Homo sapiens: one gene and its partners. The protein of the gene in region 3 interacts with the protein of the main gene of each other region in a pairwise test. Each region holds a gene or a part of one and is shown on either strand. Other genes may lie near its edges. The genes, in order: PEX13, GALNT6 and PEX1.

Region 1 (3,648 bases), on a different chromosome or scaffold from region 3:
TCACTTAATTGGAAATCAATTATAAATATTCACTTGCTAATTCTAATTTGTAATAAAATTTGAGGTACTGCATTTTTGAAAATGCCTTTTCACACAGATAGGTAATGTCAAATCCTAATATGAGTCTATGAGTATGTGGTTTTAATTGAGCATATTTATTAGTTGGGAGAGTAATAGGCCAGAATATAATTCTGTTAAATTCTTCTCTTGATATTTGCCTTTTACCATGTTATTACATTGCAGATTAATCACTTCCAAATGAAGATTAAGTGGAAGTTCCTCAATTGCATAGTTAAATGGATTTTGAAATATGGAAATTTCCTTTGTGCTTGCATGGAGGTCCAAAAAATGCTCTGGCATTGTATTAATAGCTTAAGCTTGGAAAATGTATCTGCTGCCAACTTGCGTGGGAATGGAGATACTGCTTGTGTTAACTTCTGACAGTCTGAGAGGTCTATAAAGCAGTGTGACATTACTTGTGAGTCAAACTGTATTAGGTGTTGTCAAAACTTTACTCCAGCATAAGTTTTGCATATAAGCACTGTTCTGCTTTGTGGTTTCCGTTTGAATTACTTAAGAATATAGGTCAGGCGTGGTGGTTCACACCTGTAATCTCAGCACTTTGGGAGGCCGAGGCGGGTGGATCTCCTGAGGTCGGGAGTTTGAGACCAGCCTGACCAACATGGAGAAACTCCATTACTACTAAAAATACAAAATTAGCCGGGCATGGTGGCGCATGCCTATAATCCCAGTACTTTGAGAGGCTGAGACAGGGGAAATTGCATGAGTCCAGCAGTTCAAGACCAACCTGGGCAACATAGGGAAACCTTGTTTCTACAAAAAAATAAACAAAATTAGGCAGATGTGGTGGCACGCGCCTATAGTCTCAGCTTGAATCGCTTGAACCTGGGAGGCAGAGGTTGCAGTGAGCCGAGACTGCACTACGCACTCCAGCCTGGGCAACTGAGTGAGGCCCTGTCTCAAAAAGAAAACAACAACAAAGAATATAACTAAGTCTGGGCTGGACATGGTGGTTCATGCCTGTAATCTCACTCAGCACTTTGGGACGCTAAGGCAGGATTGCTTGAGGCCAGGAGTTCAAGACCAGCCTGAGCAACACAGTGGAATCTCGTCTCCACAATAAATAAATAAATTGGCCAGGTGTGGTGGTGTGTACTTCTAGTACTAGCTACTTGGGAAGCTGAGGTGGGAGAATCATGTGAGCCCAAGAGTGTGAGGTTGCAGTGAGCTATGATCACGCTACTGCACTCCAGCCTGGCTGACAAAGCAAGACCCTGTCTCCAAAAAGAACTCAGAATTTAACTAAGTCTGCAGTAAAAGGTGATTTCCAAAGCTGAATGGGTTTAATAACAATAGCTGAAAAGGAGTTCTGTTCAGAAAAATTTCATTCTTGGCCTCAATCTCAAAAAAAATAAAATAAAACTTAAACCTTGTTCTGCCATTGAATTGCCATGCGGTAGGGCAAGTCGGGATCTTCAGCTTCTGTATCTGACAAAAATTCACAAAACTGACAATGATTATGTCACAAGAGTGAATAAACTTTACCTTGACACTACTAGTTCAATAACACATGATAAATTCAAATATTTTCTGCAATGTGGCTGCTGATAATACAATGAATAACCATAAACAAAAAAACTGTATTTTCAAAACCTTTGTAACTTTTGTCCAACTAGGCCTTTTCCTGCTCCACCTAGAATTTTCACCATTATCAGGTGCAACACATCTTAGCAGATTCAGGTTGTACGGAATCAGTGTTTTCACCTTCTTTGAAAATGTTCTTGTCTGTAGTTGAACCATGACTATTCATAGAGGCTAATTCTTCAGTCATTTCCAATTCACCATTGATTTCTCAAATAAACAACTAAGCAGTACTGTCTTTTTTTTGAAAATTTGTTTTTTTTTTTTTTTTTTTTAGTAGAGACAGGGTTTCACCACGTTAGCCAGGATGGTCTCCATCTCCTGACCTCATGATCCGCCCGCCTCGGCCTACCAAAGTGCCAGGATTACAGGCATGAGCCACCGAACCCAGCCTGTCTTTGTTTTATGCTACTTTAACAGAATACTACAGACTGGGTAATTTGTAAACAATGGAAGTTTATTTGCTCACAGTTCTGGGGGCTAGGAAATCCGAGATCAAGGGGCATTTAGTAAGGGCCTTCTTGTTGTGTCATAACATGGCAGGAGGCATCACATGGCAAAAGAGTGCATGCGAGAGAGTAAGAGGGCCAAACTAGCTTGTATAACAAACTCACTCTCGAGATAATGAACTCACTCCCATGATGACAACATTTAGCCAACAGATTTAGCAAGTATTAATATCCATTGGGTCATGATGAGCCAAGGAAAAACATTCAAATCATTTGTCTTATTTTAAGTTGGCCATGTTGTTCAAAATGCCATCAACTCTTCAAGGAACTGTTCTCACTGAGAAGCTAATAATCTTAAACAAGTTTACTTTCTCTGGACATATTTTTTTTGGCTGTTGCAATGACCATGAGTAAACAGGTTTCCTTGCTTGGGTAACATATGAACCTCTCAGGAACTTATTTTGGTTGCAGCCTCATTTTATTTTATTTTTATTTTGATGCGGAAATTCTGCTGTGATGAGAATTCCATTTTAAATTTTCTAATTTTTTTGACTGTTGATTTTCTGTGATGAGTGCTCAATCTGGTAATGCTGATATGTAGTATAGCCATTTAACATAGCTATAGTGTCATTGTATAATAAATACAGTTTTTTTTACTATCTAATTCAATAACGAAATAATTCATACTATACTGTGCCTTGAAAATATGACACTCAAAGTACACTTTTTTCTTGTGTGTCATATATGAATTCATAATTTCAAAAAAAACCCACTGTAGTATAACAATGTATATATTACTCATCATGCTATCAAGTTATAACTAAGTTACTGAAATTTGTAGTGGGCAGAGCAAAAGTGAAGCCATCGGAATTTCACATATAGTCTCTGTGCAAACTATTCAATTCCACTGTTACAGTGGAAAAGCAGCCATAACAATATGTATGGAAATAAGTGTGGCTGTGCTCCAATACAACTTTATTAATGAAATTTGAATTCTATATAATTTTCACATCACAGATTATTTCAATTTTTAAAACATTCTTTTAATTTCCCAGCAACTGAAAAGTATAAAAACCATTTTTAGCTTGTGAGCTGTACAAAAATAGGAGCAGGCCAGATTTGGCCCACAAGCCACGGTTTGCCAACCCCTGCTCTAAGAGCTAAAGTAATAGGACCTCAATTTTGCTTCTCCTCAAAAATCTCTTTGTATCATTACCGATTTCCTCTCCTTTTGACTCAGATAAAAAACCGTCCTTCCTTTTTACCTGCCAGGTTCCGTAAGATCACACCCTCTCTTACTTCCTATAGTAGCTTCTTCATCATTTAACTCCTATCTTTCCCTTATTTATAACTGCTCCTTCTCTACTGACTCCTTTCTTTTAGCCTAAAAACATTCTCAGATCTCCTCACTTCTGAAAAGACAAAGCAAAACAAAAAACTGACAATCTCCCACAACAACTTGATCACTCAATTTGGCCATTCTTTTCCTCCCTCCTTCCATTCACTGCTAATCTTTTCTTTTTCCACATCTTCTGAC
Region 2 (4,420 bases), on a different chromosome or scaffold from region 3:
CTCAGTTTCTAGGTGTTATTTGTTCCCAAGTTTCTCTACTACCCGTGCTTTCCTTACGTGGGATTTCCCCACTAACTATCATGGAGAAGGGAGAACCAACAGGCCTAGACGGTAGACCACCTAGATCCTATTTCCTTCTCCTTCCCAATCCTTGAGTCTTGGTCCCCAAACTTCTGTCTCCAGAATGTTCTTCCTGACCAATCTACCTGGCCTTCCAATCCCTGTCGCATCTCTCTGCCTTGAGATGTATGGCAATGCTATTTTGCTAGTCTGTTCTTCATTCTCTATTACGTGCAGAGTTGAGGACTGGGTTGCTTTCTTCCTTCAAATCTCTACCTAGGCCTTAGGACCAAGTTGTTCAGGGTACGAGAGAATAAGCTGACCCCACAGGGCTGTCAGGTGCCACAAAAGTCTTCTAACAGTCCTTCTCCTCCCTGGAGTGAGCTCACCCTTGTTCACCACACAGGCCTTTTACACAGCACAATTACAACATTGAGCTCGACACAGAGACAGGCACTGCCCTGCACTTAACCTCCTGCTTATTCAAATCCTCACTCTCGTTCCTATCAAATGAGAATGAACATTTGGGCTTTCCCAGAAAGGGGCAGAGGACTGTGTAAAGAGCTGAGTTCACCCAAGCTACGGCATGGACACACCCAACCTGGTCTTCAGCATCCCTTCCAGGGCTGAGATGTCGGAACACATCCGTGGGAGCCAGAAAATGTTAAGAAGAATACCATCACCATTTTAAATATTACTGCTTACCATATCAAATCAAGTTACAGTTATCTTCTCTGTTTTACACAGAAGGAAACTGAAGCACAGGGAGGTCAAGTAACTTGACCAAGGTCACACAGCTAGAAATGTGGCAGAGGCAGAATTTGCATTCAGGCCTATGTATCTCCAAAGCCCACTCTCTTAACTATGACATCACATTGTCTTGCATTTGACTGGTGCTTGGAGCTTTGCCAAAACACTTCATATACACCTTCTCATTTGCTCCCCACCCAGGGAGTGTTTATGTGTTTTGGCTAAGATTATATATCGAAGTTAGTGACAGGGCTGAGTCAGCTGCCTGCCTTCATGATACTCACTGCCTCCCTGCACTGAGAGGCCCTCAGCCCTAGGGTTAGCTGCCCCTCCTGGTCCTGAGGTCTGTTCGAGGCAATGGTTGCATGGACTAAGTTCATGCTCATATTTCCTGTCCCCACTTCTTCCAGCTGAACTTGGGCAAATATGTTTCTGACCTCACAGGGCACCTGACACACATCAGGGCCTCCCCTTCTCTGCCCTGAGTTCTTCCATGCTGCTACAGGTAGGAGTCAGCTGTTCCACCCACTGTAGGACTGTGGGCAGCATTACTGAGGTGAGGTCATCTTGAGCAGCCCAGTCTCCTGCACACTTCCCTCTTTCTTTTGAGGGTCTTGTCCTGTTCTCTGCCCTGGTGCCCCTGGAAGCAACTTTCTCTGATTACCTCTGGGTTCCTAAAGTGCATGGCACCATTAAGGAACTGGAGCTAGGGAAATGCCTGCAATGCTACTGGCTCCTGCTAGGCAATTGGAATCAAAGCATATTTCTTTCTTTCTTTCTTTCTTTTTTTTTTTTTTTTTTTTTTTGAGACAGAGTTTTGCTCTTATTGCCCAGGCTGGAATGCAATGGTGCGATCTCAGCTCACTGCAACCTCTGCTTCCCAGGTTCAAACAATTCTCCTGCCTCAGCCTCCCAAGTAGCTGGAATTACAGGCGCCTGCCACCATGCCCGGCTAACTTTTTGTATTTTTTGTGGAGATGGGGTTTTGCCATGTTGGCCAGGCTGGTCTCGAACTCCTGATCTCAGGTGATGCACCAGCCTCAGCCTCCCAAAGTGCTGGGATTACAGGCATGAGCCACCACATGTGGCCGGAACCAAAGCATATTTCAAACCCCTCACCTGACCTGGTTTTCATCATCACATGAATTTCCCTGTCTCATCCTTCTTAACCTTTCCTTTGATGGGAAGGGAGACAGCTCATCTGTCTGGAGCGGAGAATAGGGCCTGTGTGGTGCACACACATCTCTGGTAGAAGGCGCAAAAGTCCTCGAGGCTCTTTGGTGTGTCCAGAACTATGAACCTCACCCAGTGCCTGTAAATTGTGTGTGTGGGCCTGGGGGCGAGCTCAGAGCACAGAGTTAACATCCTTTCTGAGAGTGCTGCAATGGGTTGTCGGCTGCTAGAAGGGGTCTGCTGTAAGCTTTGTGGGCAAACTGACCACCCTCCACCCCCATACACAGAAGAGCCCCATCCTACCCTCTGCAGACGTCTGGGTCTGCGATGATTGGCCCTGGATGCAAGTAAAAGCTGTTTCTCCTTTTTGTCAGCCTGGGAATCTGAACAACTGAGGAAATAGGGAAGTCGGTGACAGTCACAGTCATGAACACCCAGCAGATTCCATTTCCCCACAGCAGGAGGCAGATCCCTTCCCACCCCCAAAAGCCCCCAGGCTCTGGAGGGAATTCAACCAAGCAGGGCTCAGACCGACCTCCACCAGCGAGGCTTCTCCTTGCTGTCCCCTTCTGCTCAGGCGCAACGTGGCAGGGCAGGAGGAAACCTCTCTGCAAGAGTTGCCGTACCAGAGCACATGGGGTGGCCCGATCTGGGGAGACGGGGCACAGAAGGAATGCAGGGCATGGGTGGGTGAGGGGAAGAGGGTGTGGAGCCCTGGCTCTGGCTTGTCCCCCTCTCACCCCTCCAAGTTCCAGAGGTCTGGGCTCCTCATTCATCTCGTAAGCGCCAAGGTGGAGGGGGGTCCTACCGAGGGAGGAGCTACAGGCCACCGCGACCAGCAGAGAGCGAAGGCAGGAGGGACCAGCCTGGCCCAGCCCCTTCATTTTACTGTCGGGGGTAGTGAGGAGGAAGAGGAAGAGGCGAAGGCTGGCGGAGGAGGAGGTGAGAGCGAGGACTCGGCAGAAGCGAGATCCGCCGAAGGGAAGTCCGAGCAGTCGGGGAGCTCAGGGGGGCCCTCCCGGGGAGAGGGTCGCGGGCTCCTTCTGCCGCTTACCTGTCGCGCCGAGGCAAAGCCGCAGCCGCGCCGCGGGGTGGCTCCCGGGTTTCCCCACCGGACGGCCGGGAGGGTGGGACCGGGGCGGGACCTCCCCCAGCTGCACTAACGCGCCCGCCCCGCCCCTCCCTGGCCAGGTGCAGCGGGTCCCGCCGTGTCCTCAGCCTGCTGCGGGCCCGGGAACTCCCGGCGGACCGGCAGAGGGGCGCCCCGGCTTCTCTGCGTCTCAGCCCGCCCCGGGGGTGCGGTCTTTGCGGCCAGGCTTTCAGCGCGGAAAAAGATTGGAGGGTCCTAGTCACCCCAAAGAGGACAGGCATTAGCAGAGCCGCGGGCGGCGGGTGCATGGAACCGGAATGTGCTGCGCGCCAGCCTGGAGCGCTCGGAGCCCGGAGGCCTGCCCCGGAGGGGGAAACGCGGCGGGGCGGCCATGGGCCCCGGGGTCCTGCCCCAGGTTTGCTTCTCATTTGTGCTCCATCCAACAAGAGCTCGTATTCCGTGTGCCATGAACTGTGTCAAGGGCTCCAAGTGCCAGGTATCAGGTGAATCCCAGCCCCAGCAAACTTTAAACCTACTATGATTATTCCGAATGTACCGGGGAGGCAGCTGCTCACACAGCAGAGGGTGTTTCTCAAAGTGGGATCCCCCACCAGCAGCGCCAGTCAGAATCACCTGAGAACTTATTAGAAATTTTGGCCGGGCGCGGTGGTTCATGCCTGTAATCCCAGTACTTTGGGAGGCCGAGGCGGGCGGATCACAAGGTTAGGAATTCGAGACCAGCCTGGCCAACATGGTGAAACCCCGTCTCTACTAAAAATACAAGAAATTAGCTGGGCGTAGTGGCGGGCGTCTGTAATCCCAGCTACTCGGGAGGCTGAGGCCGGAGAATCGCTTGAACTCGGGAGGGGGAGGTTGCAGTGAGCCGAGATCACGCCACTGCACTCCAGCCTGGCGACAGAGCGAGATTCCGTATCAAAAAAAAAAAAAAAGAAAAAAAGAAAAGAAAAGAAAAGAAATGGGCCCCACCGCAGACCTAAATATTCCGAAACTCGGGTTGGGCCCGGCGACTTGTGTTTTAAAAGCCCTCCGGGTGATTTTGTGCATGCTCGACCTTGAGAACCCTGAACAATTAGTGGCAGGGCTGGAATGAGAATCCTGGTAAACCCGCCTCCTAAGCCGGTGTTCGGAATTACCCCGCCAGGGCCCGTGCTGCTCAGTGGTCCTCTCCGGCGCTGCCTCGTGTGCTGCAATCTTTTGGGGCCTTAGCAACAGAGAAGGAGCGCGCATGACTCCAAATAGCCAATAATTTGAAAACTTTCTATGGTAGAAACTTCTACCACTAGTTCAGTTTCTCTTTTGTTTTGATATTTAAATAAATTTGTCTTT
Region 3 (4,144 bases):
TATTAATTTAGGCTTTTTTTTTTTTTTTTTTTTGAGACAGTCTCACTCTATCATCCAGACTAGAGTGCAGTGGCACAATTATGGCTCACTGCAGCCTTGACCTCCTGGGCTTAGGTGATTCTTCCACCTCAGCCTCCTGAGTAGCTGGGACTACAGGCACATGCCACCATGCCCAGCTAATTTTTGTATGTTTTGTAGAGACGAGGTTTCACCATATTGCCCAGGCTGGTCTCAAACTCCTGGGCTCAAGCTATCTGCGTGCCTTGACCTCCCAAAGTGCTAGGATTACAGGTGTGAGCCACTATGCCTAGCCTAACTCAGACTTTAAAAATATAAAAGCAATTCATTTTTATTCCCAAGAACAGTAAGGTGGTGGTTTAATTTTAGTCTTTAATTCTGTTTTTAATTTATTCTATTTAGAAATGTCCCAGAAACTTAGTATAACTTTACTTTCTGAAAATGAAGAAACCTGTCCTTGGGCATTAGTGTGTTGGATTTAAGCAACAAAGTTAAAAAAACCTACCCTGTGTTATGGCAATTTTCACTTGATGGTGGTTCTATAACACAGGTATCAGTGAACCTTTATAAAAGATGAACAACTTTTCAGCTTGCTTAATTTCAGTTAATTAACATGTATACTTATCTATGTTAATGTTTTATTGCTTAAAATGTTTAATTTTTATATTTGGTAAACACATAGTTTTTTCTCTCCCCCTCTTCCTTCCATCTTTCATTACTACAATTTACCATGCAGAGCTCACAATGTCTCTCTGCACCAAGCTCCATGACTCAGGATTTGCCTGGAGTTCCTGGGAAAGACCAGTTGTTTTCACAGCCTCCAGTGTTAAGGACAGCTTCACAAGAGGGTTGCCAAGAACTTACACAAGAACAAAGAGATCAACTGAGGGCAGATATCAGTATTATCAAAGGCAGATACCGGAGCCAAAGTGGAGTATGGCTTTTTCCCCCTCATTATAATTGTTAAAACTTCTTAAAAATTGTTTCACCCTTTTGATATATATTTCTTTGACTTATAAACGAGCTATATTTATAAACAAGGGACCAGAACACATTAACTCAGTCATGGTTATGTGCTTCCTTGCTTTCAATGTTTCATTATCTTATAAGGAAGAGAACGTATGGTCTCTTGAAAAAACTGACAATAAGAAGTAACAACTGGACTACCACATTTTTTTTTACATCCTTAATTTAACTCTTCGTCAATTTCTTTTTTTACTTAAGGAGGACGAATCCATGAACCAACCAGGACCAATCAAAACCAGACTGGCTATTAGTCAGTCACATTTAATGACTGCACTTGGTCACACAAGACCATCCATTAGTGAAGATGACTGGAAGAATTTTGCTGAGCTGTAAGTAACAGATTCTGTTTTGGAAGTACAGCTACTATTACAAGTGACATAGTATTACACTTAAACCTTTAAAGTTCGTGTTTAAAATAAAAATATTTTGAATATTTAAAAGCTAATTCAAAAAATATGTGTCGTAGCTATGCATTAAAAAACCCCAAAATGTCAGAAGTACAGAAGTCAAAATTGAGTTTTCATTAACCAGTTCATTTGATTATATTTGAATTATTCATAATGGACTCATTTAATTTTAGTAACTTTGGGCTGGGTGCTGTGGCTCATGCCTGTAATCCCAGCTCTTTGGGAGGCCAAGGCAGGTGGATCACCTGAGGTCAGGAGTTCGAGGCAAGCCTAACCAACACGGGGAAACCCCATCTCTACTAAAAATACAAAAATTAGCCAGGTGTGGTGGCATGTGCCTGTAGTCCCAGCTACTTGGGAGGCTGAGACAGGAGAATTGCTTGAACCCAGGAGGTGGAGGTTGCAGTGAGCCGAGATTGCACCACTGCACTCCATCCAGCCTGGGCCACAGAGCGAGACTGTGTCTCAAAAAAAAAAAAAAAAAATTTAGTAACTTCGAAGAAATAAGAAGGAAAATTAAAAGTTGAAAGTGATTCTAATGTATAGTTTATAAAATTTTGTTATAAAAATACCTGTTTTGCCTTCAAAATAATTTATATTAATATTTTATTGACCTCAAGAACATTTAAATACATTCAGATTTATTCATTTGTGGACCACATTTGTTATACATTGGATTTAAAGGATCCTTGCAATTGAGTTTATGGCCACCTATGCATCTGAGACCCATGGACTGGGAACCATTCTAGGTCAATGATTCAGTGTGATTCAATTTAAGAGATGTTTATTCCTGGTCTTTAGAAGCTGCTACCTTTTGTTATCTAATTTTGCAGTACTTTGAAGTATGTATGTATGTGTACATACGTTAGTGCTATGTATTTATTAAAGAAGAATCAGAAAACAGAGGTAAGGAAAAATAAGGAAACAAATTTCTGTTAAGCCCACCACCTCCCAAAGCATATTTGTTTATATGCTTATATATGTTTTCCTATTATGGTAAGAACAGTCTGTACATATTGCTATATAGCAGTCCCCCTTTATCCACATACATCCTGAAAATTGTTTTACATTTTAAATGTTAACTACTTTATTGTTTTTAAATGTCATTTTATAGTGTAGCTATGCCACAATATCCAATTTTTAGACATTTAAATTGCTCCCAGGCAATGTGGTAATGAACATTCTTGCAGCTGAATATATGCACATATCTAATTGTTTCACTAGGATAGAGGTGGAATTGTATAACAGGGAGCTCACATTTTTTAAGGCTTTTGAAATGTATTGCCAAATTGCCTGCCAGATATACTGCACCATCACTAACATTGTGTGTTGCAGTATTTTTCTAAACTTGGCCCTTTTGATTTTAGAAAAATGATATCAATAATTTACATTTCTTTGATTAAAGTGTAGAAGTTATAATTTTTCATATTATTCATTGTCATTTGTATTTTATCTTTTCTAACTTGTCTCTTCATCCCCTTTGCTCCGTTTTCTATTGGAGTGCAACTTTATTTGTAAGAATTCTTTTTAATTTCTGTGACTGGAATTTTTTTTTCTAGTTTGTTATTTCCCGTTCATTTCTTAAAATATAATTGTGTTTGCCAACAATCCATTATCTTTTGTTTTGTAATGGTAGTATTTATACATATTAAATTATCTCTTTCTTTTTTCAGATATGAAAGCTTTCAAAATCCAAAGAGGAGAAAAAATCAAAGTGGAACAATGTTTCGACCTGGACAGAAAGTAACTTTAGCATAAAATATACTTCTTTTTGATTTGGTTCTGTTAAGTTTTTTGATGGCTTTTCCATATGTTGTAACAGGAAAAAAATGGTGTCTATGAATTTCTTCTTAATTTAACAAATTTGGTTAATTTATAAAATCACAGATTGGTAAATGCTATAATTATGTAATGATCAGGATTGAGATTAATACTGTAGTATAAATTGGGACATTATAACAGATTCCATATTTTATTTCCTAAAATCTAAATTCAGTCTTTAATGAAATAATATTAGCCAAATGGTGGAACTAATTTATTTCTTTTGAGGAAAAGATAATAAAGAATGTAATTAAATTTAAATTTCTTGGAATTCCCAGTTGTATATTCATCACCTTTGTAGCATTTGACAAATTTTATGCTTAGCAGCTTCTTCACTGTTTTGAAATAAAATATCCTATTACCTACTGATACAATTATCTGTTCTTTGTATATCAAAAAATGTGAAATTTACACATAATTCAAATACATTTAATTATCCGCTCAACCAGAAATGAAATCACATCCCTCTACTATACTACATCCAGCTCCAAGCCCAAGATATTTAAATGACATCCATTCCTCTCCTAGTTCCAGTTATGATTTTATCTTGATATTCTCTCATATATGAACTAAATTATAAAGTTAGCCACCATCAATACAATCTGCGTATCTAATATCTTAACTATATAGTAATGGGGTAAGGGAACAGCAAAAAGGAGAACATTAATTAAAATATACAAGTAAGCCTGGGCAACATAGTGAGACCCCATCTCTTAAAAAAAAAATTAGCCATGCATGATGGTATGCCTCTAGTCCCAGCTACTTGGGAGGCTGAGGTAGGAGGATCACTTGCTCCCAGGAGGTTCAAGGTTCTAAACCAGCAAAGCTCAGAATCCCAGGGGATAGAAACAAAGACTTAGTGGATCACTAGT

Evidence for each region.
Region 1: the proteins of PEX1 (region 3) and PEX13 come close enough for resonance energy transfer, tested with the Homo sapiens proteins (one large-scale study listed by BioGRID).
Region 2: the proteins of PEX1 (region 3) and GALNT6 interact in binary tests that used the Homo sapiens proteins (3 or more experiments, as listed by UniProt).

What each region holds. Positions count from the first base shown.
Region 1 is NC_000002.12:61,041,622-61,045,269, reverse strand, and holds part of PEX13 (peroxisome biogenesis factor 13), read right to left. Parts: intron 1-3,648. UniProt on the Homo sapiens protein: Component of the PEX13-PEX14 docking complex, a translocon channel that specifically mediates the import of peroxisomal cargo proteins bound to PEX5 receptor.
Region 2 is NC_000012.12:51,388,564-51,392,983, forward strand, and holds the start of GALNT6 (polypeptide N-acetylgalactosaminyltransferase 6), read right to left. Parts: upstream 2,844-4,420; 5' UTR 2,724-2,843; intron 2,633-2,723; exon of another isoform or gene 2,519-2,632; intron 2,375-2,518; 5' UTR 2,287-2,374; intron 1-2,286. UniProt on the Homo sapiens protein: Catalyzes the initial reaction in O-linked oligosaccharide biosynthesis, the transfer of an N-acetyl-D-galactosamine residue to a serine or threonine residue on the protein receptor. May participate in synthesis of oncofetal fibronectin.
Region 3 is NC_000007.14:92,486,522-92,490,665, reverse strand, and holds the end of PEX1 (peroxisomal ATPase PEX1), read left to right. Parts: intron 1-754; coding exon 755-952; intron 953-1,242; coding exon 1,243-1,373; intron 1,374-3,124; coding exon 3,125-3,209; 3' UTR 3,210-3,641; downstream 3,642-4,144. UniProt on the Homo sapiens protein: Component of the PEX1-PEX6 AAA ATPase complex, a protein dislocase complex that mediates the ATP-dependent extraction of the PEX5 receptor from peroxisomal membranes, an essential step for PEX5 recycling.